2 linked regions of the Homo sapiens genome follow. The protein of the gene in region 1 interacts with the protein of each later gene in a pairwise test. Each region holds a gene or a part of one and is shown in the gene's direction. Other genes may lie near its edges. The genes, in order: NECAB3 and LRP8.

The links.
Region 2: the proteins of NECAB3 (region 1) and LRP8 interact in binary tests that used the Homo sapiens proteins (3 or more experiments, as listed by UniProt).

Annotation. Positions count from the first base shown.
Region 1 is NC_000020.11:33,660,495-33,673,904, reverse strand, and holds part of NECAB3 (N-terminal EF-hand calcium-binding protein 3), read left to right. Parts: intron 1-1,482; coding exon 1,483-1,507; intron 1,508-3,112; coding exon 3,113-3,221; intron 3,222-4,192; coding exon 4,193-4,218; intron 4,219-4,432; coding exon 4,433-4,530; intron 4,531-5,379; exon of another isoform or gene 5,380-5,669; coding exon of another isoform or gene 5,670-6,407; exon of another isoform or gene 6,408-6,962; intron 6,963-9,996; exon of another isoform or gene 9,997-10,037; coding exon of another isoform or gene 10,038-10,373; exon of another isoform or gene 10,374-11,433; coding exon of another isoform or gene 11,434-11,559; exon of another isoform or gene 11,560-11,693; intron 11,694-11,723; exon of another isoform or gene 11,724-11,783; intron 11,784-13,410. Other genes in the region: ACTL10 (actin-like protein 10), read right to left, coding at 5,670-6,407; uncharacterized protein C20orf144, read right to left, coding at 10,038-10,373, 11,434-11,559. UniProt on the Homo sapiens protein: Inhibits the interaction of APBA2 with amyloid-beta precursor protein (APP), and hence allows formation of amyloid-beta.
Region 2 is NC_000001.11:53,250,103-53,266,730, reverse strand, and holds part of LRP8 (low-density lipoprotein receptor-related protein 8 isoform 1 precursor), read left to right. Parts: intron 1-83; coding exon 84-258; intron 259-717; exon of another isoform or gene 718-979; intron 980-2,334; coding exon 2,335-2,562; intron 2,563-4,166; coding exon 4,167-4,285; intron 4,286-4,523; coding exon 4,524-4,663; intron 4,664-6,125; coding exon 6,126-6,267; intron 6,268-8,259; coding exon 8,260-8,412; intron 8,413-9,266; coding exon 9,267-9,491; intron 9,492-10,249; exon of another isoform or gene 10,250-10,603; intron 10,604-11,475; exon of another isoform or gene 11,476-11,545; coding exon 11,546-11,614; exon of another isoform or gene 11,615-11,634; intron 11,635-12,003; exon of another isoform or gene 12,004-15,839; intron 15,840-15,868; coding exon 15,869-16,041; intron 16,042-16,628. UniProt on the Homo sapiens protein: Cell surface receptor for Reelin (RELN) and apolipoprotein E (apoE)-containing ligands. LRP8 participates in transmitting the extracellular Reelin signal to intracellular signaling processes, by binding to DAB1 on its cytoplasmic tail.

The DNA of each region.
Region 1 (13,410 bases):
TGGGGAAGGGGAGCCTGGAAACGCAAGGGCCCCTCACTCCTGACTCTAGTGCCGCCCCCAGAGTTCTTCAGGCCCCACTCCAGGGCAGCAGAGTCCTACAGTTGGTAAGGGCTGCTCAGAGTCACCCTCCCATGGGGCCATGGGTGGCCCTGCGGCCACCATGGGCACCAGCCACGGCCCTGAGCCCTTTCTCCACCGTTCACCGCTGTGCTCGGCTCTGTCCTGGCCCCCTCATGCCCCAACTCCAGAGGGAGGCAAAGCTGTCTCCCACCCCCTCCCCACTGCCCCTAGTGACTCAGCACCTTGACCACAGCCCTGGCTGGAAGGGACCTGACCCTCCTTCTTCCCAAGTAGGAAAACCAAGGCCTGAGGGGATATGTCTCAGGTCAGTCATGGAGGCAGGGATACAATAGGGTGACCCCAGATGTCCCCATTCCCAGCTTAGCACCCCTGCCCACTCCCAAGATCTCCATCTACCCTACCTGGGCCTCCCTGGCTTGCTGCGTGCCCCTCAGCCAGTGGCAGACCTTCTCTGAGTTAGGCTAGAGGTTAGAGTCTTTCCTGAGCCCCACTGACCCTGACAAAACAGGACCCTGGAGGGGGCTGGCGTTCAGGACCTGGAGTTCATGGGGGCTCTCGGCCCAGGCTTGGCCCACCCCTGCTTGCCAGGCCTGCCAGTCTCCCCTTTGCTGGGCTGCTTTGGGTGACCTGGGAGCAGGTCACTAAGAGAGACGGGGACCTGTCTTGACTCTGCTCCTCTCTGCCTCTGTTGCTCTTCATCTCCACTTCTCCATAAATGAAATCTGCCGAACTTGCCTTCTGCCACCCCCACTCCCCCTTGGACGTGTGTGTGTACACACACGCCTGCCGAAGGTCCTCAGAGTCAGCCCCATAGGAAGCCCCAGCCCTGAAAGAGTTAACCCCAGCTGCTCCTGATCTATTTGCTAGTGGGTAACTCAGGCGCCTGCAGAGACAGAGTAGCCACTGCCTGCTGTTGGTTTTCAACAGCACGCAAGGAAACAGCTCAGAGAGGGCAGCTGGGGTAGACCATGGCCACACAGCAGAGCTCGGGGCTCAGGTCTAGGACGGCTGTGCAAGATTCCTGGGCCACAACCTGGCCCATCTCCTCAACCTTCCTCAAGCTGGAACTGTGCCAGGGGCTGATGTATCAGATAGAACTTGGGCTGCACTCTGGGTGTGGGAGGTGGGGACGCAGGGGACTGGCCAGGAGCACCCCCCACGAGGCCAGGCCCTGCAGGAGAAGTGAGCAGAGGTGGCACCCGCTGCGTGCTCTTCCTGTGCCCCGCTTGCAGGAAAAGCTCCTGCAGGGCTGAGCTGGGCAGGTGGTTTGGGACCAGGCTGGGCGGGAGGAAAGGCGAGGCAGGGGGTAGGTCGGCCAGCTGGGACCCTGTCGGGTTGAGTGGGGGCCTCTGGCTTCCCAGGTGGCACTCACAGTTCTCTCTATGTCCCTTTGTCCTCTAGGTTTTCCGCAGAGCAGACAAGAATGGTGAGTGTGGCTTCCCCTGGGTCCCACAGTGGGGCAGGGTGGGAGGCATCCAGGAGGCCCAGGGAGAGTTGGGAGGTTGGGTGGGAAGTCAAGAGTTGAGACAAATCTTGGGGGCCCAAAACAGGAGAATCAATCAAGGCACTTCCCAGAGGAAGTGCTGTTCTCAGCCAAGTTTGGCAGGATGGAGAGTGGAGAGAATGTGGTTTGGCCACGGACTGGAGATAGGGGCTGACTTTCACACAGCACCCTGGCATGGTGATGGGCACTTCCTGTACGTGGCCCTCTGTTGTCCTCACAACCACCAGCTAGATTGGAATTCACCCTATTTCATAAAGGAGCAGAGGGCCAGAGAGGTGAAGCAAGTTGCCTAAGGTCACACAGCCTTTAATTGATAGGCTCGAACTTGGGTCTTTGCAGCATTTAATCCCAGGCTCCTTGTGTGAGGCACTTGGAAGAGTGAGGTAATGGAGATGAGGCCTTTTTGGAGATTTTACTCAGGTTTTTAGAGGGCTCAGTAACTTGTCATGTGACCAACCATCTGGACCAGGGAGGTCTTGGAGGACACAACTAAACCCACGCCTTGGGCAAGGATAAAGCTGGGTCCAGTGCCAAAGGAGTCGGCTCCTCCTGCCTTGGGTCCTGGGCAGTCTCAGACCCTGGTCTGGGAGAAACTTGGAAGCTAAAGCAGGAGCCCTAGGGGACCCATCCAGCAACAGGCTGCTCCCCCTAGATGACTTGGAGCAGCCCACTGTGCCCTGTGTGGCCCGTGGAGGGTCTGAGCTTCGCAGTCAGCCTGGGGCTCCTTTCATCTGGGTCTTCACGCCCTCTTGTGTTTCATCCTCCTAGAGACGGGGTCCTGTCCCCACTCTTTGCCCCTTCTCCTTGGGTCTCTTCAAATTGATGGGGATTGTTTGTCCCAACCCATTGATCAGGACACATGCTCTCACTTGGACCAGGGAGTTCTGTCTGGGGAGGTTCAGATCCTCCCCCGGGTCAGCTCCCCGCACCCATCTGCTCAGAGACCTCACACATCATTCAGGCCAAATCCCATGTCTTTGTCCCACATAAGTACTCCCAGCCTCTGCTTACATGCCCCTGTGATGGGGAGCTCATTCCCTTCTGAGCCAGCCTGCTGCTGCCTACAGAGGCTCCAACTAGTAGGAGGATTCCATCTGCCTCCCCGTGGCTTCTCTGTGAAGGTCCTGGGTCCAGAGAATGGAGGTTCCTTGTGCCCTGCAGTGAGGCTGGTCCCCAAGTCCTTCCAGGTGACATCTAGGCCCTGCCACAATGTGGCCGTGTCCCAGCCTGTTGCTTGTTTTTTCACTTGGCAAACATTTACTGAGTTCCTACCCAACGCTATGTACATACTGCCCTGTCCCTTTGGTGCCTGCAAAGTAGGTTCTGTTGCCTTCACTGGACACCTTCAAGGACCCCAGTCCTTTTGTCCCCAACAGTCAGGCCCCCCACTGACCTCAGACTCCCATCTCACCTAGCTAGATGGTTGTCAGATGCTATGAGGCCTTTGGGACCCTGGACCTGGTGGCAGGGGTGCAGTCAGGGTCAGGGATACCTCCTCTGCTCCCTGTCCTCCCCCTGCCACCCCAGATGATGGGAAGCTCTCATTTGAGGAATTCCAGAATTACTTTGCCGATGGGGTTCTCAGCCTGGGGGAGCTGCAGGAACTGTTCAGCGGCATTGATGGGCATCTCACCGAGTGAGTATGAGAGGGGGCCGTGGGTAGATGCGAGGCCAGGTTGTCTTTACCCCACTGTGTCCCCTGCTGCCTTGGTTCCTTTTGTAGGATGAGGAAGAGGGGGCAGGGAGAAAGGTACCAGGGCTCAGTTCCAACTTTACCCGCCTGCCTACCCCCTCTCCAGCTACAGCCTTGCCCACTACACTGCTTCCAGCTGGGACCCCAAAATAGCCAAGTCTGAGTCACCACCCATGGCTCAGCTCCCCATTCCCGCTTCCCACAGGGACCAGAGGATGCCTGGGGACAGCTGGGCCCCGCCTGCTTCCACCCGAGAATGCAGTGCATAAACACGCAACCATCTACCCCTTGTGTGCTCCCACATCTACGCGTCTTGGCAGGAGTGTGCACGCTCCTTCCCGTGCCTGCTCCCAGGGGTGCACACGCATGAACCGCTGTTACTCCCTCTACTTCCCTTCTCCCCTTTCCTGAGGGTCAGTCTCAGGCTCCTGAGACTTGGGCTGGAACCTTCATCTGCAGTGCTTCCCCTCCCCTCCTGGCCAGACTCCCCACCCAGTTCCTTGTCCTTCAGGGCCTCACTTAGGCAGCTCTTCCTCTAGGAAACCCTCCCTAACCTACAACTAAATACCCCATGCCGTCCCTGGACTTCATTGCCTTGCACCTGGCTTCCCCTTCGCAGCTCTGACCACTTCTCACTGGCCTGTGTCCACATCCATCTTCCCCTGGCCTGAGATCCTCTTGGTAGCCAAGAATGGGTCTGAATCTTTGCCCTTAGAGTGATTGGTGGGGGCAGTAGAACCCATTCTCCAACCCTGCAAGGACTCTGTCCACAGGAGCAACTTAATCTGGGGTGGAGCAGAAGTGGCCTTGTTAGGCTAAGCTGGGAGTTGGTGGGGTGGGATGTGGGGCATTGGCCCCATTAGTCCCAGTTTACCAGGCCCAGGTCTGAAGGGCGCCTTCTCTTTTCCCTGCAGCAATTTAGAAACAGAAAAACTGTGTGGTGAGTAGGCCCATGGGAGCTCTTTTCTCCTGTGGCCCCTGGGCCCCAGGGTACGTGTGGCAAGGGACTGTTGCTGGTCTCCTGATGGGACAGGTTGGGCTGGGCTCAGGATATAAGGCCTGCTTGGCTGCTGAGGAATTCCAGGGGGCCAGAATCCCAGGGTGGGTAGATGGGTGGGGGTCCAGGAACCCTTGAGCACCTCTTCTGCCTGCAGACTACTTCTCAGAGCACCTGGGTGTCTACCGGCCGGTGCTGGCTGCATTGGAATCGCTGAACCGTGCAGTGCTCGCTGCCATGGATGCCACCAAGCTGGTGAGTGGAGTGGCTGATGGTGGGGGATCCACTGTGAGGCAGTGGGCATCTGCTGTGCTGTGGGATCCTCCACAGTCTTGACTCAGGGTTATAGAGCTAGGGGCTTGGGTTCAAATCCTGGCTCCCACTTTGTAGCTGTGCCCCTTGACCTCTCTGGGCCTGTTTCCTCATCTGTAAACCATCATAACAATAGAGCTGCCCTTCATACATCACTGTGACCAGTGAGAACGAAGGCAGGGATTTTTGTCTGTTTTATTCTGTTTCCAGCACCCAGAATAATGTCTGGCATACACTGGGTGCTTCATACTAGGGGCTGCTGTTGCTTTAGTTGCTGGCCCATCACAACTGTGGTGGGATATCATTCAGGGCTGGGCTAGGCGTGGAAGGCTGTGCTCACAGGTTCACAGGGCAGGGCCTGGCCCGAGGACATACGTGAGTAGGCAGGTACGTGAACACCCACGCGTTTGTGTGGACACGTGTATACACAAGCTCGAACAGTGCTGATAGCCAGGGCTTGAGGCCCTTGAGTGGTGACTTCCAAAAAATAAGCTGCCCTTCCCTTTGTGTGTTCAAGAAATATCTCCACCTCCCTTTGCTCCATAGCTCTTGTAAGGGGGAGGGAGCAGTGAGCAGGCCCGGGATTGTGCCTGACCCCACTTTTTACAGAAGGGGAAACTGAGGCACTCATAGTCAACAATGACCTGAGCACATGGCTAGGCACAGGGCTCCTCCTCCTGGTGACTTTCACATGAGATTTAGTAGCTTTTCAAGGGATCGCCCCTTGGGGCCTGGCATCGGATGTATGTCCAAATGGTACATGACGAGGGTTTGGAGGAACTCCCATATCTGTGGCATGGACACAAGTGGGGCATCACCTTTATTGCCATAAAGTAGGGCCCTGTGGGTAGGCAGCTGGACTGGCATTCTCTGAACTGGCAGTGGTTGGGGAGATTCAAACTGCAGTTCAAAATGAGGGTCCCATGGGTCCCAAATACCTTCTCCTGGCCCAGAAAGGGTATGGGGGTGACCCATCCAGTCAGCTCCAACCTCCAGGAGGACCCTGCCAGCTCCAAACACTTGACTCTTTAGATAGAGAGCTGTCCCCCAACGCAGTGCCACCCCCCCCAGTCCAGCCTGACTCAGTTGAACACATCGTACAGCAGCCTGGAGCCACACTCCTGGTACATGGCCCGAGTTATCCAGCGGCGCTGGAAGGAGTGCAGGGAGGCCACCATGGAGCCGCCGGTCCACACAGCCATGCCACGCCCATGCTTGGCCACCAGGTGGGGCCGCAGGGCCGCGTAGCCGTGCCGCCGGCACTGCGCCTCCAGCTCCTTGTCCAGGCGCTCGGCGAAGCCAGGAAACAGTGTGGAGCCGCCGGCTAGCACCACGGTGTCTGCCAGGCGTGTCCGCAGCGTTTTGGGCATCTTCTGCAGCGCCCGGAAGGCCAGCGCGGGCAGCCCCTGCTCAGCCTGGCCCAGCAGGCCCGGCTGGAAGATGGGTTCGGGGCAGCGGAAGCGCTCACTGCTGAGGCAGACGCAGCACCCGTTACCCACGCTGAAACTGGCCGGATGGTGGCGGGCGGGGTCGCGGAGGTCGCCCTCGAAGTCCAGGGACACGTAGCAGCTGCGCTTCTTGAGATGTGTGATGGCCTTGCGGGGCAGGGCCTGCTGCAAGAGGTCAGGGTTCGCCGCCACCAGCAGATCCCGCAGGTAGCGCGACAGGGTGCTGCCTGCCACGTTCAGTCGGAAGGTGGCCTGGTGCCACGAGTGACCCGCGTAGATGGGCGTGGCGTGGCACACGCCCGCGCCCGCCTCCACGGCCAGCCCGCTGAACGCGCCGGTGGAGCAGAGCGCCAGCAACGCGGTGCTAGCCATGTGGCACGCGGGCACTGCCAGGGTCTCGAACAGCAGCTCCGCCACCCTTTCGCGGCCCGCGGGCGGCGCCAACGGCGAGTCGCTCACCAGCACGGGCCACTGCTCTGGGCACACCCGCAGGCCGCCCACCAGCAGGCGCTCCCACAGCCCTTCCAGCGCCTCCCAGTCCGCCACCACGCCGTGCTTGATGGGGTGCGCCCGCGCCACGCCGCCCGCCAGCTCGCAGCCCGGCGCTCCGGGCAGCACCGGCCGGTCCCAGCTGGGCACCAAGCTAGAGCTCTTCAGCACTATGCGCGGCTGGTTCTCGCCCGCGAAGCCCGCCTTGGTGAAGCCCGAGCCCTGGTCCACCACCACCGCGATGCGGCCCAGGGAGGACGGCCGGTGCACGCGGCGGCTCCCCGACACCGACGCCACCTTCGGGCTCGGCCCAGCCGCGGGGCTGAAGGCTCCGCTCCTCCGCGCCACTCGGCTTCGTCGGCCCGATACCTCCCGGCCTCTGTCCTAGGGAGTAGTCCCCTTCAGCCTTTGGCTCTGCCTCCGGAGCCTAAGTTCTTCCTCTTCTGGACCAAATCACCACCCTTTTCAGCTCTTGGCTCCGCCCTCTGGTCTGAAAGCCCCGCCTCTTCTGTCCGGGCCATCCGCCTCCTTTTCAGCTCGTGGCTAGTTCCTAGGCCTGAGGCCCGGCCCCTAGTTCAGGCTTCAGTCTCCGCTCTGGCTGGGTTCCAGCCGCATCTCACCCTCTTGGTCTCCCTCTGGCGCCGGGCTTCAGGCTCCACGCTCTCAGGACCCGCCTCTGCTTTGCTGTTCCGCCCCGTCAGCCCTTGCTGAGATGGCTGACGAGATGGCTAGGACTGATCCTTTTAGATCCTAAGAAGCCCCCGGGAGGAGCAGAACTTTGAGGGCGAAGGGGCCTTGTGGTAAGGCCATTTGGACATATATCCCCCTTGAGGACCCAGGCAGCCTCCTGGCACCTCTCACCTGGGCTTGACGGAAGTTCCTGGTTGTGGAGAGGGGAGGGGCTGGTCAGAAGGCAGAAAAGAACTTGGATTGGGCTCATTGTGACCTCACTCCCCAGCAGCTGCACTTCGCAGCTCCCTACCTTATGACAACTCCCTGGACCCATCCTCTCTTCTGGACAGAGCCAAGGGCAGTGATTTTGGCATCCAGGGGTCTGGCTTCAGCAGCCCAGCACAGTCTGATTCCTTTCCCAAACCACTTAGAATTATCTGATGTACTCTGTCCAGATGTGTGGCCCCCTACCCCTCCCAGTGCTGAAGAAAAAGCTTTTTCATCACAGATCTGCAGCTTCCCTGAAGAGCCCCCGAGAGGCTCTGGCCCTACCTTTATGGGCTTCCACGGATGGATTCACGTGGGCCTCAGTTTGAGACTCAGTTCTTTTTTTTATTATTATTATTTTTGAGACGGAGTCTCGGTCACCCAGGCTGGGCGTGCAGCGTTGCAATCTCAGCTCAGTGCAACCTCTGCCTTCCGAGTTCAAGTGATTCTCCTGCCTCAGCCTCCTGAGTAGCTGGGACTACAGGCATGCACCACCATACGCGGCTAATTTTTGTATTTTTAGTGGAGACAGGGTTTCGCCACGTTGGCCAGGCTGGTCTCGAACTCCTGACCTCAGGTGATCCACCTGCCTTGGACTCCCAAAGTGCTAGGATTACAGGTGTGAGCCACCGCACCCAGCAAGACTCAGTTCTGAAGCTGACTCACTGTGCAGTCCTAAGCAAGTCTTGATCTTTCTCTGGGTTCGGTTTTCTCCTCCAAAAGGTAGTAATAATCCCCCCACACAGGAAAGAGGTCACTTCTTGTCTCTGCAAAGCCTCATCCTCCTGAGGACCAGTTTGGTTGCAGGTAGAAGACTCAGGTGAATGTAACCCAAAATAAGGACTTTATTGAAAGGATCTTACATGTTATGGATATCAAGAGCAAGGGTGAAATCAGGTTTCAGGAACAGAATCTGACTGCGGGGCTGTGGGGAACCCAGGATGTGCACTGCATTGTGTTGTTTGTTTTTTGAGATGGAGTCTCGCTCTCTTGCCCAGGCTGGAGTGCAGTGGTGTGATCTCAGCTCACTGCAACCTCTGCCTCCTGGGTTCAATTCCCCTGCCTTAGTCTCCCGAGTAGCTGGGACTACAGGCGCCCGCCATGATGCCTGGCTAGTTTTTTGTATTTTTAGTAGAGACGGGGTTTCACCGTGTTAGCCAGGATGGTCTCGATCTCCTGACCTCGTGATCTGCCTGCCTCAGCCTCCCAAAGTGCTGGGTTTACAGGCGTGATCCACTGCGCTTGGCCTGCATTGTGTTTTTATTCTGAAGGCTGGCTTAGCCTGTGCATGTTCAAGTAGAGAACATGGTCTCTTACAGCTCCTGAATCACAGTCCTAGGGGGAGGGGCTGACAGGACCAGCTTGGGCCAATCACTGTATGGGCAGGAGGTGCAGCCCCATGGAAGAACATGGTTACCCTGATTGTAACCATGTGGATGGTAGGGAAGAGTCAGTTCTCACAATTAGCAGGAGTGATGTTATAGCTCTTGCAGCCTCCAGCCTGGTGCAGGCAAGGTGGAGGAGATGTTCATCCTGGTGGCGGTGACAAAAGTGCATCTTCAGCAGAAGCTGGGCTGATGGCTGTAGTGAGCTGGGACTTCAGTCCTGCTGCATCTGCCCCCAAAAGAGGGCATCCTGAGGTTGGTCACCAGAGTGTGGCAGGAAGGCGGGCTGCAGGTTTGGCAGGCCAGGGGTGGCATTGGGTGTGGAGCTGGATTTGGGACCCGGGAGAGTGAGGAGAAGCAGCAGCAGGATCCCGCCCACAGAAAGTGTGGCAGGGCTTCTTCTAAGTGATTTGGGGAGTGAGACTGAAGCTGTGGGCTTTTTCCCTGTTGGTAATGGAGACCTGTTGAAAGCTTATGAGCAGGGGAGTGAGCTGCCCTAGACAGGTAAGTGGTTTGGAATTAGTCTTTGTCACGTGGGGAAGGAGATGGGACAGGGTAGGTTGGGAGACAGGTGCCTTGGGGAAGACTGGGGGGCCTGAATGCTTTGGGGTTACCAAGCACAATGTGTAGGAGTGAGGGGCCAGAGAGAGGCCCAGGGCTTCCAGCTTCTCCTGGGTGCGTCCCCAGGCAGAATCCACGTCTCAGGCCTTGCCCCAGCTGACTGCCATCCTGGCTGTTCTTACCCAGGATGGTGCCTGTTGGCCGGGAACCCTCCCTCATGCCTAAGAGGGATTTCTGGATGCTGGGGGGATGTCAGGCTTTACCGGAAGCAGGTCCCTCTCACTAGCGTGGCCAAGCCTGGGTTTGCCCAAGCCCACCTCCCTTGAGCCTGCAGACTGGGCAGGATGTGACCTGGATTTGGAGTGTTGGGGGAAGGAAACTGCCTCCCGCCACTGTAGCAAGGTTTGGGGTTCTGTTCTGACCCTTGGCACAAGGAAGGAGAAAGCAAAAGACAGCCCTGGCTCCAGACCGTGGCGATGGCTCTGCCTTCATCACGCCCCGTTCACCCCTCTGCGGCTCCTAGGCTGAGCTTTGCCCACCCCGACTCCGCGCCCAGACGCCTCCGACAGGGTTCGCAGGCGCCAGGGTTGCCACGCACTCTTTATTGGGCGGGGTCCGGGCCAAGCGTTTAAAGCTGCGGGCGAGGGCAGCGGCACCGTTTGCGCGGCTGCTCCTCGGCGGGGCCGGCTTCGCGGGGAGCCTTCCCCGGGGACCGGAAGCGCGAGAGCAGCCGCGGCCAGCTCAGAGCTGCCCTGGCCCCGCCCTCTTCCGGCCGCCGCGCCTCTTGCCGCCGCAGCAGCAGCAGTACCGGCATCCTCGGCTCGCGCTCGCTACCTTCGCCCGCTCCGCGCAATCTGGGTGCCGCCGGGGAGCCCAGCCCAGCGCCGGACGCGTAGTCAATCCGTTGCCCAGCGTTGGCCAGCGGCTGCCGCTTGTCCAGGGGGAGAATCAGCACGATCCTGGTCTGGGGGTGGAACAGGGGCGTGAGGCGGGAGAGCGCGCTAGGGCCGAGCCCACGACCCGGGGCCGCTCCGCGCTTCTCCTGGGACCCTCGTCCACCCGGGTCCTGTCGTCCACCCGGGTCCTGTCATCCTCTCGTGCACAGGGCTGGAGGGGACCCCTGTCCAATTCAGGCCGCGGGGAAGCCCGCCCTTCCCTGCGTGGCGCCCCGGACTCCGCCTCCTTTCTGGAAACCCTCATCCATCCCAGGCTGACTTCCTGAGACCAGCTCCGTCTAAGTTTATGAGATCCCTTCCAGGCCCTATGTCAGGGGCTTTCAGCACCTCCCACCCCCGCCTGGTCCAGGGCTTCTGCTCATTTGAGAGGGAGACAGGGAAGTTCTGAGCCTAGGAGCTGAAGAGAGGACACTAGGGAATTCCCCCTGCCTCTAGCTCCAGTAGTACCAACTAGAACTGATTCTCCGTGTTGGGATCTCCACCCGTTCGTCCAGGGTTGGGAGAGAATCCCACTCATGCTCACCCCCCGGGGCTCTCAAGTCTCATCCACTTTCTGGTTCTGGAATCTCTGCCCTCCCTTCTGGGCTTTTTTTGTTTAAGACTGAGTCAAACAGGGTCTTGCTGTGTCCTACAGGCTGGAGCAGTGGTGCTGTCAACGGCTCACTGCATCCCTGACCTCCTGGGCTCACGTAGTCCACCTCAGTCTTCTGAGTAGCTGGGACTGCGGGCATTCACCACCACAACCAGCTAAGTTTTAATTTTTGTAGAGATGGGGCCTCCCTATGTTGCCCAGGCCAATCTCAAACTCCTGGGCTGAAGTTATCCACCCACCTTGGCCTACCAACGTGTTGGGATTACAGGCGTGAGCCACCTTGAAAGGACCCCCATCCACACCCATATGGGCTCCTGGGATCCTCATCCTTGGGAGAGATTTTCGAATTCCTCCCTCACCCCCTAGGACTTCTGCATACAAGGCCTAGACTCCCAGCATCCCTTCCCACCCACTTGTCCAGCTTTCTCTGCCCCCCAGCTGCCTCCCCAGCCCTGCTCCCCATCCCCCGCCCTCACAGCCGGCTTCTTCCGAGTGAGGTGGTTGAGGAACGATTTCCACCAGGCCTTGTCCATGTCAGCCGGCCTCTCCTTGCGGGCCTGCTTGGGTGCTTTGGTCCTTTTGTGGGAACTATAGTTTCCCATGGCAGGGCTGGTCACCACTGGGGACGATGGCCCACACTCCGTCTGCTCTGCCCCCTGGGCCCTGGCAACATTGTGACCTCACGGGCTGACCTCACCAATTGCAGGCTCTGAGCACCGCCTTCCAGGGCCCACAGGTGAATCTGGGCTCCACTCAGTCACTTCTAGCCTTGGTTTCTCAGCTGTAAAACTGGGCTAATGATCATAAATGAGGCAATGCATGTAAGGTGCTTAGTGGTGAATAGAGGGGGATTTCTGTGGTTTGGGTATGAATTTTGGCCCTGCTACTAACTTGCTATGTGACCTTAGCCCAGGTAATCAACCTCTCTGGACCTGTTTTCTCATCTGCAAAATGGGGTCAATTATGGTTCCTGTAAATTGTTACAAAGGTTAAATGAGGCCTGGCATGGTGGCTAATGCCTGTAGTCTCAGTACTTTGGGAGGCCGAGGCGGGTGGATCACCTGAGGTCAGGAGTTCGAGTCCAGCCTGGGCAACATAGTGAAACCCCGTCTCTACTAAAAATACAAACATTAGCCAGGTGTGGTGGCACAGGCCTGTAAACCTAGCTATTCAAGAGGCTGAGGCAGGAGAATTGCTTGAAGCTGGGAGGCAGAGGTTGCGGTGAGCCAAGATCATGCCGCTTCACTCCAGCCTGGGTGATACAGTGAGACTCTGTCTCAGAAAAACAAAAGACTAAATGAAATTCTTCTTGCAGTAGTGCTTGGCTCTGAGTGGGTGCTTCTGTCTGTTCTCTGGTTGAAAGCAACAGAAACTAATCATCTCAAATACCCAAAAAGGAATTTTTTGGGAAGATTTCATGGAGATAGAAACCCTGGCCTGTCTGAGAATGAAAAGACCCAGCCTCTTCTCTGTCCCTGTCTCCTAGCTCATAAGCCTGGCCCAGGAGGTCCCATCCGATGGCTGAGCTGAGGCAGGTCATGGCAGGAGATGAAGTCTCTGATGGATGGGGCTTCTGGAGTCTCCTCGGAGAGGGCAGGCACCTGGACTGCAGCTCCCCAGGACTCCCACCCTGATGCGTGTGTGTGTGTGTGGTAGGGGTTAGGCAATTCTCAGGACATCTGTGACTCCTGGGTGTACAAGTGGGCAGGCCCTTTATTGTATTACACTTGACGATAGATGGCTGGTAGGTCTGGCATCGAGAGCTTACGTGCCAGACCCTGGGCTGAGTCCTATGCAGGAATTAACTCCTGGGACGTTCTTGCAGCTCCATGTGCTGAGTTTCATCTTTCCTGTTTGATAGATGAGGAAATGGAAGCTCCAGGAACTGACGGTTGTTGAGGAGCCTCAGAATCCCATGCTGGGCCATGCAGGGCCTAGCATTTGGGCAGCCTCCCTGCCTCTCTGCCACCCTGAGAGGGGCTGGGAGGAGGCTGGCAGTGTCGGTTGGGGTCAGTGCCGGCGTGTGTGTCTGAGTGAGAATGGCAACCTGATTGTCTTTTATCAGCAGCTCCTAGTAAAAAGCACCCAGTGTTGTGTGTATGAGTGAATGAATGAATGAGTGAATACGTAGATTGTGAGTCTGGGGCCACACCACGCCATTATTTTGCCTTGTGTCAACATTGGCCCTTGGATACCTCGTGATAGCCCCCACCCAGCCTAGCTGTGGCTGGGACTCACTGGCTATGACAGTGCTGAAGGTGGTAGCCCCATCAGGGAAGGGGCCATGAGGTCCAGAGAGGCCAGGCACTTCGCTGGGCAGATGCCCCCTGTGAGTTGGCCTCACACCTCCGGGGAGGGAGGCCAGTCCCGGACAAGGAGGGATCCAGACCCTCCCTGCCCATCAGGTCTCAGTACCCTCCTGCCTGTGCCAGGTTTGCGTGCCCCTGCTCTTG
Region 2 (16,628 bases), on another chromosome or scaffold:
AGCAAGCCAGTGGCAGAGTCTTGGTCTCCAGGCTCCCTGCCTCTTGCACTGACTCTTTCTCTTTCAACCTCCCTGCATGACAGCTGGCAAGAGCCCATCCCTAATCTTCACCAACCGGCACGAGGTGCGGAGGATCGACCTGGTGAAGCGGAACTATTCACGCCTCATCCCCATGCTCAAGAATGTCGTGGCACTAGATGTGGAAGTTGCCACCAATCGCATCTACTGGTGTGACCTCTCCTACCGTAAGATCTATAGGTGAGCGGCCATATCCTCTGCAGCAAGGCATGAAGAGTGGGGGTGAGGGGTGGTGACAGGTGAGGAGGGGAGGAGTGGTGTCTGCCTCTAGAGCTCCTCAGGACAGAGTTGGGACTTGGGAAGAGATGCAGGATCACAGTGGATATGGAACTTCTGGGACTTTACTGGGGCTGGAGTAGTCTGAGGGCTCCCTTGGGTTAGCAGCTTTGAGCCCCAAACACCTGGGATTTGTCTGACCTCTGGAGGCCTAATATGGAAGCACAAGACACAGGAACTGTTTGGCCAGGGCAGAAAGGAAGAAATCCTGGCTTTGGGGAGGACTTTCCAAGCAGCTCACATCCCTGTGTGTTGGAACCTGGGGACTTAGACCTGGTCCCTGCCCAGAGGATCCCACTCACAACACAGTGACATCCATTTGTGATGATCATGAGAAAGTACAGAGGAGGCCTCCGAACCCACCTGGGCATCTGATCTGGCATGCCTTCCTGGATGGCATCACCCCAAGGCCAGCTTTTCACTGTCTTTGACGCCACAGTCAGTGGACCTGGTGCTTGGGAAGCTCTTCACACACTGGAGGAGGTTCTCTCCTAGGACTTTCTCAGATGCCAGCACCTGCCCCACTGCATGTCTGGGCCCTCTTCAGGCAGTCATGTCCTTTCTTTGTCCTGAGATCCACTTGGCAGGAATGCCGATGACCAGGCGCTGGGTAGACACTGAGTCACTGATGAAAGAATGATGGGACAGATGGGTGGAAGAGTGGATGGAAGCAAATATAGCAAGTGCTACTCACTGACAACTAGATTCCTGCCTCCCTGCAACATACAGACACTCCGTTCACACACACCCAAAAACATAACTAGAACAATGCCTGTCCAAGAGATGTAACTGAAAGAGGCAGGATTTGGTGACAGACTAGATATGGGGCTGATGGAAGAAATTTACTCCTTCATAGTGAATTTTGGGAGTTTCAGGTTTTTGGCTTGGGAGGTTTCATGAATGGTGGTGCTGTTCTCTGATGTGTGAAGCAGTAGAGGAGGATCAGGGCTCAGGGTTTGGGCCGTCTGGTTGGCCGAGGGGAAGGGAATGGGGATGAACAGTTTTGGACATATTGAGTTCAAGGTGTCCATGGGACATCCAAGGGGAGCTAGTTAGCTTTGCAGTCTGGATCGTAAGAGAGCTGTTGGGATTGGAGACTTAGTTATTGATGGCAGTGGACACTAAGGAACTAATCACCCAGAGAGAGGGCAAGAAGAAGAAAACCTCTGGGGAAACAGCATTTGCTATTTTGCTAATGTTGCCTCCTGAGTGTCTACTGTATTCTTAGCCCTTCTTTCCATTCTCACTGGCACGGTCATTCTTCAGACTCTCTTAATCTCCCACCCAGATGCTGTAACGTCCTCCTAACCAGTTTCCCTGCTTCATTCCCTCTCCTTCCAACCCATCCACTCCATAGATGCCACAGTGAACTAACATGCTTATTGGACTATATCCTCTGGCCTGTCTAGTTATCACTGGGGAGAAATCCTAATTCCTTGGCGTGGTACTCAAAGCCCATCAAGATGGGGTTCCTGCCTACACCTGCTTGCAGTCTGACACCCACATAAGCAGCTCCCCTAAGTATCTCACTGTTCCAGAGCAGACTCACCTCTGGCCATTTGCACAAGCCTTTCTTGTTCCCTAATGGCTTTCTGTCCTGGTGACTTCATGCTCCTGGTGAACTCGTCCTTCAGGACTCAACTATAAAGCCTTCTCCCGCCCTCTCGGATGAGGCAGTCTCCATGCCTCTGCTGCCATAGCCTCTAATGCTTTCCATAATCACATTGTATTATATCTGGCTCACCCTAATGGGCAGAGCTGTGGAGCAGCCCCACCTTAGAAAGCCAGAGACCGTGGCCCATGTAAGTCTGTACCCCTACCCTGGTACCCCAGGGAATGTGTAGAGTGGAAATTATCCACGTTCCTCTAAAAATCTATTGCCATGGCCCAGATGGAAGAGAGGGGAAGGGTGCACAGGTAGCTCCAGATGGGCCCATGGGTGGAACATCTGCCCCATGGTCATCTCTGTTTTCTCTTAAGCGCCTACATGGACAAGGCCAGTGACCCGAAAGAGCAGGAGGTCCTCATTGACGAGCAGTTGCACTCTCCAGAGGGCCTGGCAGTGGACTGGGTCCACAAGCACATCTACTGGACTGACTCGGGCAATAAGACCATCTCAGTGGCCACAGTTGATGGTGGCCGCCGACGCACTCTCTTCAGCCGTAACCTCAGTGAACCCCGGGCCATCGCTGTTGACCCCCTGCGAGGGTGAGTGTCCCAACTGAACTTCCCATTCTCCCACCATAGGTGCTCAGTCCTCTTGTGTCTGTCACAAGGGCTATCTTGAGGGTTCTAGAAAGCTCTGGGCCACTCAGACACAGGCCATGGGGAAGAAAGTCTTGTTAATCCCCAACCAAGGTTCTCTGGGCATTGGTCACCAAAGTTCTCCCTGGACTCTCCCACCCACTCGTTATATCGTAGAATTGGAGTGTCTCAGAGCAGAGTAGGGCTCTAGAGATGGCCTGATAGAAGCTCCTGGGGGAGGAAGCCTTTCTTCAGGCTGCTGTAGGTGAGCATCTGACAGCTGCTCACATACTTCCAAAGACAGGTAGCTCATTACCTCCCATAGGGCCTGTTTCACCGTGGGGCAGCTCTGCTCATTAGAAAGTGGGTCTTTTCCCCTCATAATGCCAAATCTATCTCCCTGCAACTTCCTCCATTGGCCTCTGGAGTTACATAAAACATGTCTATTCCCTGCCCTGTGAGAGAGCCAGCAAGATTTGAGGACCAAGATCACTGGTCTGTTCTGCTTCAGACTGCCTGCCTCCATCCCTACCCCTGTTGCCTATGGTCTCTGGGCCCTCACCACCTAGGTTGCCCTGCTCTGGCCACCCCTCAGTTTTGGGAGTTAGGGATTCTGAACAGAACAGGACTCCCTCTCTCCCTCAGTGTGGATATCTTGAGATGGTTTTTTTAGCGTTATATCATGTTAAGTTTAACAGAATCAACAGCTGCTTCCTACTGCTATTTCCTTGTTAAACAGGGATAAGAAAACCCTCTTCTTCGAGCAAGGGCAGCTGGTGAGGGGAGTACCACATGGGAGGTTATGTGAGGCCTTGGGAAGTGACTGATAGCTGCCATTCACTAAGCATGGGTCAGGTGCTTCCAGCACAGAACTAGGCACTCTGACAGATACGGAGCCTCTCCTCTTACCCTCACTTCATCCCTGTTCTCTGTCTGTTCTCATGCAGACCTTGTGTTGCACCTGCCACATCCTGTCCCTCACATCATAGAGTTACACCCAGCCCAACCCCAATCCACTGCGGATCGTCAGGGTCCCAGGAGGAAACCCACTGCATACTCAAGATAATCAGAGGAGGGTTTAATAAAGGGACTATTTACAAAGGAGTGGGTTAGGTCTAATTTACTACCTTGGATTAGTAACAGTGGGCTGCTACTGGCCCTAGTAGGCCTGAGGAGACAAAAGCAGGGAGGGTTACCTGAGTTAGGAAGCTCATCCACTTTCTCCTCTGAAACCAGAAAAGAGAGGGCTTACTAGGGCCTTCCCCACACTGACACCCTAGGGCTCTAGTTAGTTAGCACTGCCAGAAGTGGGAGAGATGGGGTCACAGGCTATTCAGCTGAGTCTGGGTGCAATCTCGGAGAATAGTTTTCCTCAAGTTCTCAAATGAGGTGAAGGCTAAAGTGCCTGCTAAATCTAAGATTTGATGGTTCAAAAGAACTTTAGAGGTCTTCTCAGTCCCTACTAAACATAAACCACAACTAGTCAATGGGTTATTGAGCTCTTGTGACTCAGACCACCCCGGTCATGTCCCCAGCAAGAAGGCAAATTGGGTTATTTTGTCTTTTAGGTTCATGTATTGGTCTGACTGGGGGGACCAGGCCAAGATTGAGAAATCTGGGCTCAACGGTGTGGACCGGCAAACACTGGTGTCAGACAATATTGAATGGCCCAACGGAATCACCCTGGGTGAGCCCTGCCTTTCCTGGGTTGGGGGCCTATTCTAGTGCCTTGTCCTGATCACTGTCTGGAACTCCATGAGTCTTGTTTCTGGGTCCTCTCATGGTGCCAGTGACTTTGTTTCCTAATGGTTGCCGTAGGCTGGCCTCAGTGTGAGGCCTAGAAATGTGGGCAGGGAGAGGTACAAAGGAACAGAGCTCCAGACTGGGGTCCCAGGTTCATGACCTGATCCTGCTTCCTTCCCAAGATCTGCTGAGCCAGCGCTTGTACTGGGTAGACTCCAAGCTACACCAACTGTCCAGCATTGACTTCAGTGGAGGCAACAGAAAGACGCTGATCTCCTCCACTGACTTCCTGAGCCACCCTTTTGGGATAGCTGTGTTTGAGGTGAGTCCTGTAAGGAGAGGCAAGGGCCCACTAGGAAGCTGAAGCCTAGAAAATGCTTGTTCAAATAGGATGAGTCCCTGAGACTTGTTCAAATGAAAACAGGAACAGGGAAACCAACTGATTTGTTTGTAAACAATCTGTGAGCTGCCTGCACACAAAGGCTCTGCAGCCCACTCTCCACCTGGCAGCCTTTCCCACGCTCTCTTCCCAAGACCCCTCTCCCAGAGCACTTCTCACAGGTGAGCTGCTAGGCATGTATGTTTCCTCTCTGTGCCCTCAGCACCCAGCACTGTAACCCATATACAAAAGGCACCCAGTAAAGGGAGGAAAGGAAGAAGGAACATACATATCCTTAGAATCATTTACTGGAGGAAATGGCCTGAGAGATGCTGTTCAATTCTGCACACTTTTATTGACCTCTGCCAGACCCTGGGGTCATAGAAGTGAATCAGACACTATCCTAGTCTCAAGAAGCTCCCAGCAAAGTGAGGAGCGAAGACCCTCCTGTGCCCTGACCCTAATGACTTTTCTTCTCCGGGAATGAAGAAGCCAGAACCAACCAAGGTCTCACACCTTCACCTCTTCCCGAAAACTAACTCCACCACCAAGGGGAGGGAAAGCAAAGGGATGATGGTCTGTGGTGGGCATTGGCAGGATTTGCTTGCAGCAAAGTTACTCAGCACTGCTCTGAAGTTGTGGGCAAAGCTCCACCTCTAAGTCCAGCCCCTGCTTTAAAGGACAGGTGTGTTGGTACACAAGTGTTTGTGCTTGTTTATATACATGGCATGTACATGTAAAGTATGTGTATGTGCATGGGTAAATATAAATGCATCAGAATAAAAGTGTGCATTCCTCTAAGTGCTGGTGCTTATGTGTGTACATACATATACCAAGATGTATATAGACTGCATATTTAGGGGCAAATGTAGCTTTTTGTGTGTGGATGAACATTTGGGTATGTGTTTAGATCTGTGTATGAGGATGCACAGTTGTACCTGTACGTGTGGATTTGCTGACAGATGCACATCTAGGCTTATATGGACTAACCATGTGGACTCGTGTGGATACCCAGAGGCTACAGGAAGCCCAGCAAGGCATAACCCTCATAGCTCACACATTCCTTCCAATCTTGGTCCCAGGCCCCAGTAATGATAATGCTATAGAGATTTAACCTTGGGTTTCTGCTGGGCTCTAGCAAGCAGGCTTAGTTCAGCATGAATGAGTAATGTTGTGGCTGTCAGTTCAAAGCACAGAATCACTGAATAATCCTCTAAGATAGAAGGGAACAAGGAGACGTGCATCACAGATTAGAGGCTGAGAGCCCCACCGTGAATCCATAGACAGGACAGATCAGGGGAGATTTCAGGGAAGTTCTTGTGACTATGGTTTGGGGCCAACCCCTCAGACTGAGGTCATGGATTTACACTCCAGGCCTCCCATCCTCTGCATCTATACCCCACAGGACAAGGTGTTCTGGACAGACCTGGAGAACGAGGCCATTTTCAGTGCAAATCGGCTCAATGGCCTGGAAATCTCCATCCTGGCTGAGAACCTCAACAACCCACATGACATTGTCATCTTCCATGAGCTGAAGCAGCCAAGAGGTGAGCTGTCTCTGGTCCTAGGTCCCAGGTCCCCTGACTGTGTCACTGTGTCCTCTCCTTTCACCAGGCAGGCTGTGTTCACATTCAGGTCACAACTCAGCAACCCCAGGAATAATAACAACAATCCCTCTTGTTGGTAGAGTACTTTTTCATCATATATTTTGTCTCATTTTACCTCAAGTTCTTTGTGAAATAAGGCTGGGTATAAATGAATACATAACTGTCCTGTTTTTGCCAATCCTACAAAGTGTGGGTATTACTCTTCTAACAGTTGAGGAAACGGAAGCTCAGAGAGGTAAAATAATGTTAGCAGGTGGCAGAACTGAAACCTAAACCCAGGTCTATCTGGTTCCACAGCTGCTTTCACCATGACACACTGCATCTAACTTGCTATTTGTAGCCATTCTGCAGTAGTATAAGCTAATGTATCCGAGGGCCATATAATAAGTCAGCTTATTGGTTGGGAATAGAATCTAGGAATCCTACTACTAGGTTGTCCCCTCCTCTATCACTAGGATACATTAATTCTAACTGTAACTGAAGTGTTGGCTGCCAGGGTGAAAGAGGGAGAGCAAGGGAGTGTAAGGAGCTAAGATTGGTGCCTGATTCTAGACCTAGAAATTTAAATGAGAGACATAGTATGTGGCACAGGGAAAAATAAAAACCGCGGGCTTATGGGCTTTGGAGCCCAGCCGACCTCAATTTAAGTTCTATCTCTAGTCCAGACATGGTGGCTCATGCCTGTAATCCCAACACTGAGAGGCTGAGGCAGGAGGATCCCTTGAGCACAGGAGCTCCAGGCAGCAGTGGGCTATGATTGCATTACTGCACTCCAGCCTGGGCGACAGAGCAAGACCCCTACCTCTTAAAAAAAAAAAAAATTCCTAGAGTATAGGTTTGACGAATTTGTTCTCTTTGAGCCTAGGTGTCTTTATTTGTCAGTCTGGGATGTAACGTCCCCACCTCTCAGAATTGTTGCAAGGATTAAATGAGAGTGTAGGGATAAAACACTAGGTATGGTGCTGGAAAGTACCCAATAAAAGTAGTAGGGAGGCCAGGCATGGTGGCTTATACCTGCAATTCCAGCACTTTGGGAGGCCAACGCAGGAGGATCACTTGAGCCCAGGAGTTTGGGACCAGCCTGGGCAAGAAGGCAAGACTCTATCACTACAAAAACTATAAAAATGACCCTTGTATGGTGGCATGCGCCTATAGTTCCAGCTACTCGGGAGGCCGAGGTGGGAGGATTTCTTAAGCCCAGGAGTTTGAGGCTGCAGTGAGCTATGATTGCACTGCTGCACTTAGTCTAGGCAACAGAGTGAGACCCTGTCTCAAAACATAAAACATAAAAAAAATTGAAAAAGTAGAAGGGCTTCACAATTGCAGAGATGTGGAACCAACCTAAGTGTCCATCAACTAATGAGTGAATAAAGAAAGTGTGGCATATATACACCTTGGAATACTACTCAGCCATAAAAAGGAACAAAATAATGTATTTTGCAGCAACTTGGATGGAGCTGGAAGCCATTATTCTAAGTAAAGTATGATAGTAGTGGAAAACCAAAAACTATATGCTCTCACTTATAAGCAGGAGCTAAGCTATGAGTACACAGGGGCATACAGAGTATAGCTAAGCTATGAGTACACAGGGGCATATAATGGACTTTAGAGACTAAAAATGGAGAAGGTAATAGCGGGGCTAGAGATTTAAAAAAAAAAAAATTACACATTAGGTACAATGTACACTACACTTGGGTTACAGGTGCGCTAAAGTACCAGAATTCACCACTATATAATTCATCCATGTAACAAAAAACGTGTATCCCAAAAGCTTTGGGGGATAAAAAAAGAAAGAAAAAGAAAAAAAATGTGAAAAAAAAAGTATAGGGCAAGCTTTTTGAGCAAGCCAGGTGGGAGAAGCCTCATCCTCAGGAGGCAGGAAGACCTGGCATGTCCTGTCTGTGCCCCAGCTGTCTCCCTCTCTGCCATTAGCTCCAGATGCCTGTGAGCTGAGTGTCCAGCCTAATGGAGGCTGTGAATACCTGTGCCTTCCTGCTCCTCAGATCTCCAGCCACTCTCCCAAGTACACATGTGCCTGTCCTGACACAATGTGGCTGGGTCCAGACATGAAGAGGTGCTACCGAGGTAAGCAGACCTTCCAGGAGGGATGGCCCCTGGCAGTGTCAGACCCTACCCTGCTGAAATCTTCCCTTGGCTTCTGGGACACAGTATGCTGCTGGTTTTCTTCCATCTTCCCTGGTTACTTGTTGCCTTTTGGGGGTTTCTCTTTTTTACCTTCCTTGAATGCTCATGCCCCCAGGATCCTTCCAAAGCTTTTTCTCACTCCCAAGGAAAAAATGCACATATACATAAAACATTTTAAATTCAGTTTCAGGGAGTTTCTGGAACGCTTTAAAAACCTCAAGTTAAGAACCCTTAATCGCCGTGGCTTCAGGTACATGCAGATAACTATATATTTGCCTGTTTCTCACCTAGAACTTAACAAACACTACACAGCAGCCCTTTTGCAATATAATTGGGACTAATAGTTAATACTTCAACCGCATACACAGATTCATGTCCTAATCTTGATGTATAGCCAAGGCCTTTCATTTGAGCCTAAGTCTACTGCATTATTAATGATTTACAGGTTCAATTGTTTAAAGTGGAATAAGAATTTCAATCTATTGGTATAACAATATATGAGTGTAAAATCCTTCTAGATTTATCTGATTTCCCCTCCCTACAGTCTTTTTATTGCTGATCTTACAACTAATTCCACAGCAATGTTTTAATGACTCATCTTTATTGAATCAAAGTGAAGTGCTTAGCATTCAGCTAAAGAAAAGATCATAGCCCACTGGGGAGATTAGGAAAGGCTTCACAGAAGTGGCATTTGAGCTACGCCATGAAGATAAGTTCCTAAGTATATCTCAGAGGCAATACCTTAGGCAACAAAATTATCTGTCCAAGTGACCTCCATGGTATTTCCCCTCCAGCACCTCAATCTACCTCAACTACGACGTTAGCTTCTACCATGACGAGGACAGTACCTGCCACCACAAGAGCCCCCGGGACCACCGTCCACAGATCCACCTACCAGAACCACAGCACAGAGACACCAAGCCTGACAGCTGCAGTCCCAAGCTCAGTTAGTGTCCCCAGGGCTCCCAGCATCAGCCCGTCTACCCTAAGCCCTGCAACCAGCAACCACTCCCAGCACTGTAAGGAAATGAGTTCTGCATTCTTTCATGACATGGGAGGGCTCCTAGGGAAGCCAGGAAGGGGGTATGTGATAAGACAGAACCTACCAGAGCTGAATACTGCATATCTTTGAGGAGGTTACTGCATATCTGAGAGGGAGGTAGAGTACCAGCCTGCGATTTAGGACTCATAGGTGCCCCTACCTTACAGAGGGTCTTGTAGGAAGCTGAGACCCTGTGAGCCTCAGTTGCTTCTCTTACAAAGTGGAAATAACCACCCTTCCACAACCTGCTTCACAAGATTGCCATGATAGACAAAGGTGTAACCGGTATAACTGGAGGTGCTCACGCACACAGCCGTTGCTGACTCTGCGAGGGTGTGTGTGTCTATGTTTCACAAAGTTCTGATGTGTATATGAGGAGGTGTCCCTTGTGTTTGGAAAGCTCTGATCTCAGTTCACAGCAGGTCCCCAGATAGTAATATCTACAACCATGGTCTCCTTATACCTCTTTCCAACCCTGGGATGAAAATAATTAAGTTCACCACTTATTAAATCATTGGGAGCAGTAATTGTCACTGCTAGAAATGTTCTATCTCATTAATCAGCAAATACCTTTTTAATTGAGTTACCTGCCAGAGGGAGTTCATTTAAAAGGATAAACTATCTTTTTAATTTTTTCCCCTACATGGACAGCCCAGAAACCAAGCTGCTTGGCAACATCTTCCTAACTGGTCCTATTTGCCAGCAGAAGCTGGCTTTTTGGAGTGGAGCACTTACTCCGAAGTTTGCAGAGGCAGATGGAGCATGTGTGAATTCCAGTTCCTCTCATCTGAGGGCAGAGCCTCTCACCAGCTTCTCCTCACTGGCTTCCTCATGCTCTAGGTTTTAATATCACTGTCCAGTGTTCGCTGTGGCCCAGAGCAGGGAGGACAGCAGGGAGGACACAGTTAGCTCTGGAAGCAAGCAGTGCAGCTTTTTCTCCCCTTAACTGTTAGATTCTCTTGGAGTAACATGGATAAACAGTCACATTGAGAGAGGATGGGCCTTGGGCCATTGCCGGGACAGTCATCTCACCTGCAGCAAGTGTAGATGATAGCTCCTTTTCACACCACAGGGAGCTGTCAGGAGGATCTAAGGGAAAAATGCTTTCTGAACTATAAAGTGCTTCACAAATGTTACAATGAAGATGGTTATAAGAGTGAGAAAGATGGCATGGCATAGTTTTTCAAAAAGACAGTAAATTTTCCAAGCACTTTTCAGTTTAAAATGTGCTTTTACATATCTTTTTAAAATTTAGACCCTATTCAACAACCCCATCCCACTCTCCACCCTCTTAGAACTAGGCAAAGTTGTGCCAAGCATTTTATATTCATTTTAGATAAATTATTTCATTTAATCCTTACCATATCCCTAGGAGGTAGGTAATATCACCATTTTAAAGATATAAAAGTATAATACCATGTGCTGTATTTATAATATATAATAATTTGCCCAAGGTCACATGGGTAGTGAGTAGTAGAGCTGGGACTTGAACCCAGAAGTCTGACACAGAAGTCTGCGCTTTTGATTCCTCTACACTATACTATGTCCCATTTCAATTACTTATGAAAAATAATCTGATAATGCAGATGGACAGACAGTTCACAAAAAACAATACTGGCAAAGCAACAGATACTGATGGAAAAAGGCAAATGACCTAGTCCATCAGCAACATAAAGACCTAAGTGCTCACTTTGCCATGCACAGCCCCCAGCTTCCTACTACCATGATGCTATGGAAAGGGTATGGGACTTGGGACATGAGTCCTGGGTTCAAGTCCCAGCTCTGCCACTTTTCTGAAACCCCTCAGTTAAGACTCAGTTTCCTTGCCTGTAAAATGGAGATAACCTCTGTCCTGCTTGCCTCACAGGAGTTGTGATAGGATCTGGAAAGACTGAATTATTAGGCAACAGCCAGGATCATCATTTTAGAATGAGGATGAGCAGCAGTTGGGTAGTTCTTACCACTTGAGGCCAGTAGGGGCTTGGACACACAGTGATAGAGCATCATTCTGCAAATGTTTGTGTTTTGCAGATGCAAATGAAGACAGTAAGATGGGCTCAACAGTCACTGCCGCTGTTATCGGGATCATCGTGCCCATAGGTGAGTGTGGCCCCCAGTCACTGAAGAGAAAAGAGAGACCCTGCTTAGGCCTAGGGAAGAGCGCTAGCAGGGTAGAGAACTTGGCCTGCCCTATTGACTTGTTCTGCCCTTGCAGCCTTCCTGCCCACCTCCCAGTCCTGATTTAATTTGGTTTTTTAGCCTAGCACACAAGGCTCTTCAGGACCTGGCCCCAGGTGACCTTCCAGGTACATCCCCCATCTCCCCACCCCTCGATTCACACTCTACACTCCAGCTATGTGAAGTGCGACTGTATGATCCCTAGGAACAGGGCTGGTATCTCTTGCTCACCATTCTCCCCAGCTCCTGGCAATGTCTAGCACATGGTAGGATATCAAGGATTTGTTGAATTAATGAATAGAGCTGCTTACCATTCCTTTAATAGGTCATACTGTCTTGTTTTCTTTCTGTTTGGTTTTCAACAAGTATTTATTAAGCAGCTACTATGTGCCAAACTCTGATAAGGGGAGGAAAGGCAGTTAAAGATGAATAAGACATGGTTCTGTCCTACAAAAGTTTATAGTCTTGTTAGAGAGACCCACATAACACAGATAAGTTCATTACGACCTGGTAGGTCCTAAGGTTAAGCTGCATGCACTGACTTCAGAGACAGTGCTGAGGAAACACTTAACTTGGGCTGGGGGAGGGGGAAGAGGGAAGAGGAGGTTTCCTAACAGAAGTGATATTTGAGCTGGGTCAGCCAAGTGAGGGAGGATCAAGAACAGTCCAAGCAGTGAAGACAGCATGAGTAAAGCCAGGAGTAGGAAATGGCCTGGAAGGGTCAGGGTGGGGTGGGTTTAGAGCTAGAAGGAGATCAGTATGGCCAGAGTATAACACTTTGTTAAGACCTCACAGAGAATCATGGGGGCTGATTCATTCTCTTCCACCCTGATGACCACACGGTATCCTGTACACCCCTCTCTTAGCAGTCTCATCTCGTAGCAGTATCTTTGCATTCTGATTGTCCATTCAGAGCTTTATCTCCCTTACTTGGCTATGAGTACTTCAAGGACAGGAACTTTGTCCTTTTATCCTGGGAATCTTCAGTATGCCGAGTTAGTCAGCAAATGTTTTAAAAACTTCTCCCCTGTGTAAGACACTGACTGTGCCAAGTGCCAAGGATCCAGGGAAGAAAAAAATAAAGACTTTAAGAGCTTTCAGTCTTTAATCAGGCAAAAATAAAGTCCTTTAAGGTAGATGTTAATACATGTCATTATGTGCTATGATAGGGGCATGTTGGATATAGATAGAGACAGAGGAACAATGTAATAGTGGCATGATACTCTTGTGAAGGGATGGTAGAAGGAAAGGTAATTCCAGAGTAAAAGTGGCGCTTCTGGAGAAGACAGCATTTGAATTGGCCTTGAAAGGCTTCACCAGGAAAGATGATGGTGAGGTGATTATTCCAGGATTATTTTGATTGGAGTGGAGAAAGATAAATCTACCCCTTTCTTGCCATCCTTTGCCCTATAGAAAGAGGCAGATATATGCTGTTTTGCTGACATAACTCACTCTGAAATATTCAATATTTTTAATTTCTGCTAATCTGAGGAGTGAAAGATGAGTATTATTTCCCTGACATTTCCCTGTGAGGTAGAGTATATTTTCGTAAGCTTATCAGCCCCTTTACTTATATTTTATCTGTTATGAATCGCCCACTCACAGTCTTTTCTTATTTTTCTATTGGCTATCTTTTTCTTATTTATAGAAATATTTATACATGACAAATATTAAACCTTTAAAATATATGTTACAAATATTTTCTTCCAGTCTGACATTTGGTTTTAAAGTTTGTTTATGGTATCTTTTGCCATGCATAAATATGAAACTTTTAAGTATCAGATTTGTCAATCTTTTAAGATTTCTGGGTTTTGTGTCTTGCTTAAGAAGGCCAGCCTCACTCTAACTTATTAAAATATCTCCTGATGTTTTTCTTTTCTACTTTAAACTTTTTTTTAGTATTAGGATATTAATCTATTTGGAATTTAAATTTTAGAGTATCGTATGAGGTAGAGATTTAACTGTTTTTTTCTCTATATACCTGTCTAGTTTCCCCAAAACCATCATTGAATAATCCATACTTCTCTCCTGACTTGCACGTCATCTTTATTATAAACTACCTCCCATACGTACTTTGATTTGCGTCTAAGCAGTTTATTTTCCTTCACTGATTTATATATTCCTACATACTATTAGCACAACTTCATGATATGTTATGCTCACAACATCTTCTCAGCTATTTTTATTCAGTTTCTCTTCTAGGTGAACTTCAGAATAATCTTATCAATTCTATAAAAATTTTGGTGAAGTTTTTATCAAGATTGTTTTAGATATATGAGTTTATGTGAGGAGAATATACCTTTTTATTATATTAAAGCTTCCCATCCAGAAATGTGGCCTATTTATTTCAGTCTTCTTTTACGTCCCTCAGCAGAATTTTATAGATTACACAGGACTTGCGTATTTCTTCTTAGGTTTTCCTAGGTATTTTATAGCTTTTGATGGGCTATTACGAATGTATTTTTATTCCATTACTTTTTCTTTTTCTTTTTCTTTTTAAGAGACAAGAAGATCTTGCACTCTTGCCCAGGCTGGAGTGCAGTGGTGCGATCACAGTTCACTGCATCCTCGAACTCCTGGGCTCAAGGGATTCTCCTGCCTCAGCATCCCGAGTAGCTGGGACTACAGGCATGCACCACCACACCTGGCTAATTTTTTAAATTAATTTTTTTGTAAAGACCAGGGCTCACCATCTTGCCCGGGCTGGTCTTGAACTCCAGGGTTCAAGCAATCCTCCTGCCTCAGCCTCCCAAAATGTTGGTATTACATATGTGAGCCACTGTGCCTGGCCTCCGTTAAATTTTCTAATTGGTTGTTGCTGATTAAAAAGACGGCTAATGATCTTTTATGTTGATTCTTGATTAACTAAAATTATTTCTGATAGTTTTTCACCAGCTTCTCTTAAGAGTTTCTAAAAATACAAATAGCTGTTAATAACAGTTTGGTTTCCTCCTTTCTCATATGTATTTATTTATTTACTTTTTTTTTTTTTTTTTTGAGACAAGGTCTCACTCTGTTGCCCAGGCTGGAGTGCAGTGGCATGATTGTGGCTCACTGCAGCCTTGACCTCCCAGGCTCAAGCAATCCTCCCACCTCAGCCTTCTGAGTAGCTGGGACTACAGGTGCCCGCCACCATGCCCAACTACTTTGTATTTTTTGTAGAGATGGGTTTTCGCCATGTTGGCCAGGCTGGTCTCGAACTCCTGGCCTCAAGTAATCTGCCTGCCTCAGCCTCCCACAGTGTTGGGATTACAGGCGTGAGCCACCGCACCTGGGCTCCTTTCCCATATTTATACCCTTAAATTTTTTTCTGGCCTTACTGCATAGCTAGATCTCTAAGACAATAAATATTAGCAATGATAACTGCCTTGTTCCTGTCTTTAATGCTTATCAATTATTGTAATCTTACTAAAACAGAAACCCCTTCCATAGCATCCTAGATAGGTGATCATTCAGCCTCCACTGGGATGCTCAGAGTGACTGCTAATCACCTTACAAAGCTACTTGCTCCATTTTTACCCAGCTGTGTTGGAGAGAGCTTCCTCCTTTAATCATTAACATAGTCATTTATTCTAAATCAGAGCTTGTGTTGCCCTCTGTGTCTCCTTCTAGAGATGTTCTTCTTCAGGTGGAGCCTCACCTTTGGAAATAAACACTCTGCCTGGCCCCATCCCACTCTCCACCCCCCAGTTTTGGGAGAGAATCGTTTTCTTAGAGAAATCTAGGGAAGCAGCAGCATTAGGGCAAAGGTGTGGTAAAATTCACTCATTCATTCAGCACATGTTACTAGGCACCTAGTCAGTGCTAGGAACTGGGCGTAGAGAGTTTAAAAACAAAAAAAAGACACAGTCCCTGCCTTGAAAGAGCTATCTAGTTGGGAGTACAGATACATAAAGTAAGATACTGTGTGTGATCTGGGAGCACACATGAGAGAGCAACTGACTCTGCCCACAGTTGGGGAAGACTTCACATTTGAACAGGATCTTGAAGGATGAATAGTTAGTAAAGGAAAGAAGGGATGAGAGATGGGCTTTCAAACAGCAGTAAAAGAACATGCAGAAACAGAGCCTGAGGAGCAAAGGGTAGTAAAAGTGGAGTGGTGACAAGCCTTGTACAGATGTCTGAGCAGTGGGTTGGAGCCTGCTGGAGGTCCAGTGTCCTGTGTCCTTCCTCCAGTGGTGATAGCCCTCCTGTGCATGAGTGGATACCTGATCTGGAGAAACTGGAAGCGGAAGAACACCAAAAGCATGAATTTTGACAACCCAGTCTACAGGAAAACAACAGAAGAAGAAGACGAAGATGAGCTCCATATAGGGAGAACTGCTCAGATTGGCCATGTCTATCCTGCAGTAAGTATTTCTCACTGGGAGAATTCCTACCTTCCGACCATCTTCCCTTCCATCCTTTCTTCCCCTCCCATCCTTTCTTCCTTCCCATCCTTTCTTCCCTCCCTTCCTTCCTTCCGTCCTTCCCTCCCTCCTTTCCTTCCGTCCTTCCCTCCCTCCCTGTCTTTTTTCTTTCCTTCTTTCCTTCCTTTCCTCCCTCCTTCCCTTCCTCCTTCTTTCCTTCCTCAAACATTTATCAAAAACGCACCATGTATCAGGCACTGTTCTAGGCCCTGGGGAACACAGAAATGCTGGGGTAGGTGGTTAAGGTAAAAAGGTATCAGGACCACCTTGTACCTAGAGGCTCTTCCTGGCAGTAAAAAAAGCCAAATGTCTCTCTTTCTGCTCAGTAAATTTTCAGAACCTTTAGCCTGGAAGGGTAACTGTGGCCATTTAATTCAAATGTATTCATTTCAATACTGTATGCCAGTTATGTGCCAAGCACCACATTAGATATCAAGTATTCAAAAGTCAATAAGGAACATGCTTGCTCCCAAGAAGCTGGTAGGGAGTTAGAGATACTAACATACAGTGGTATAATTGTGTGCTGA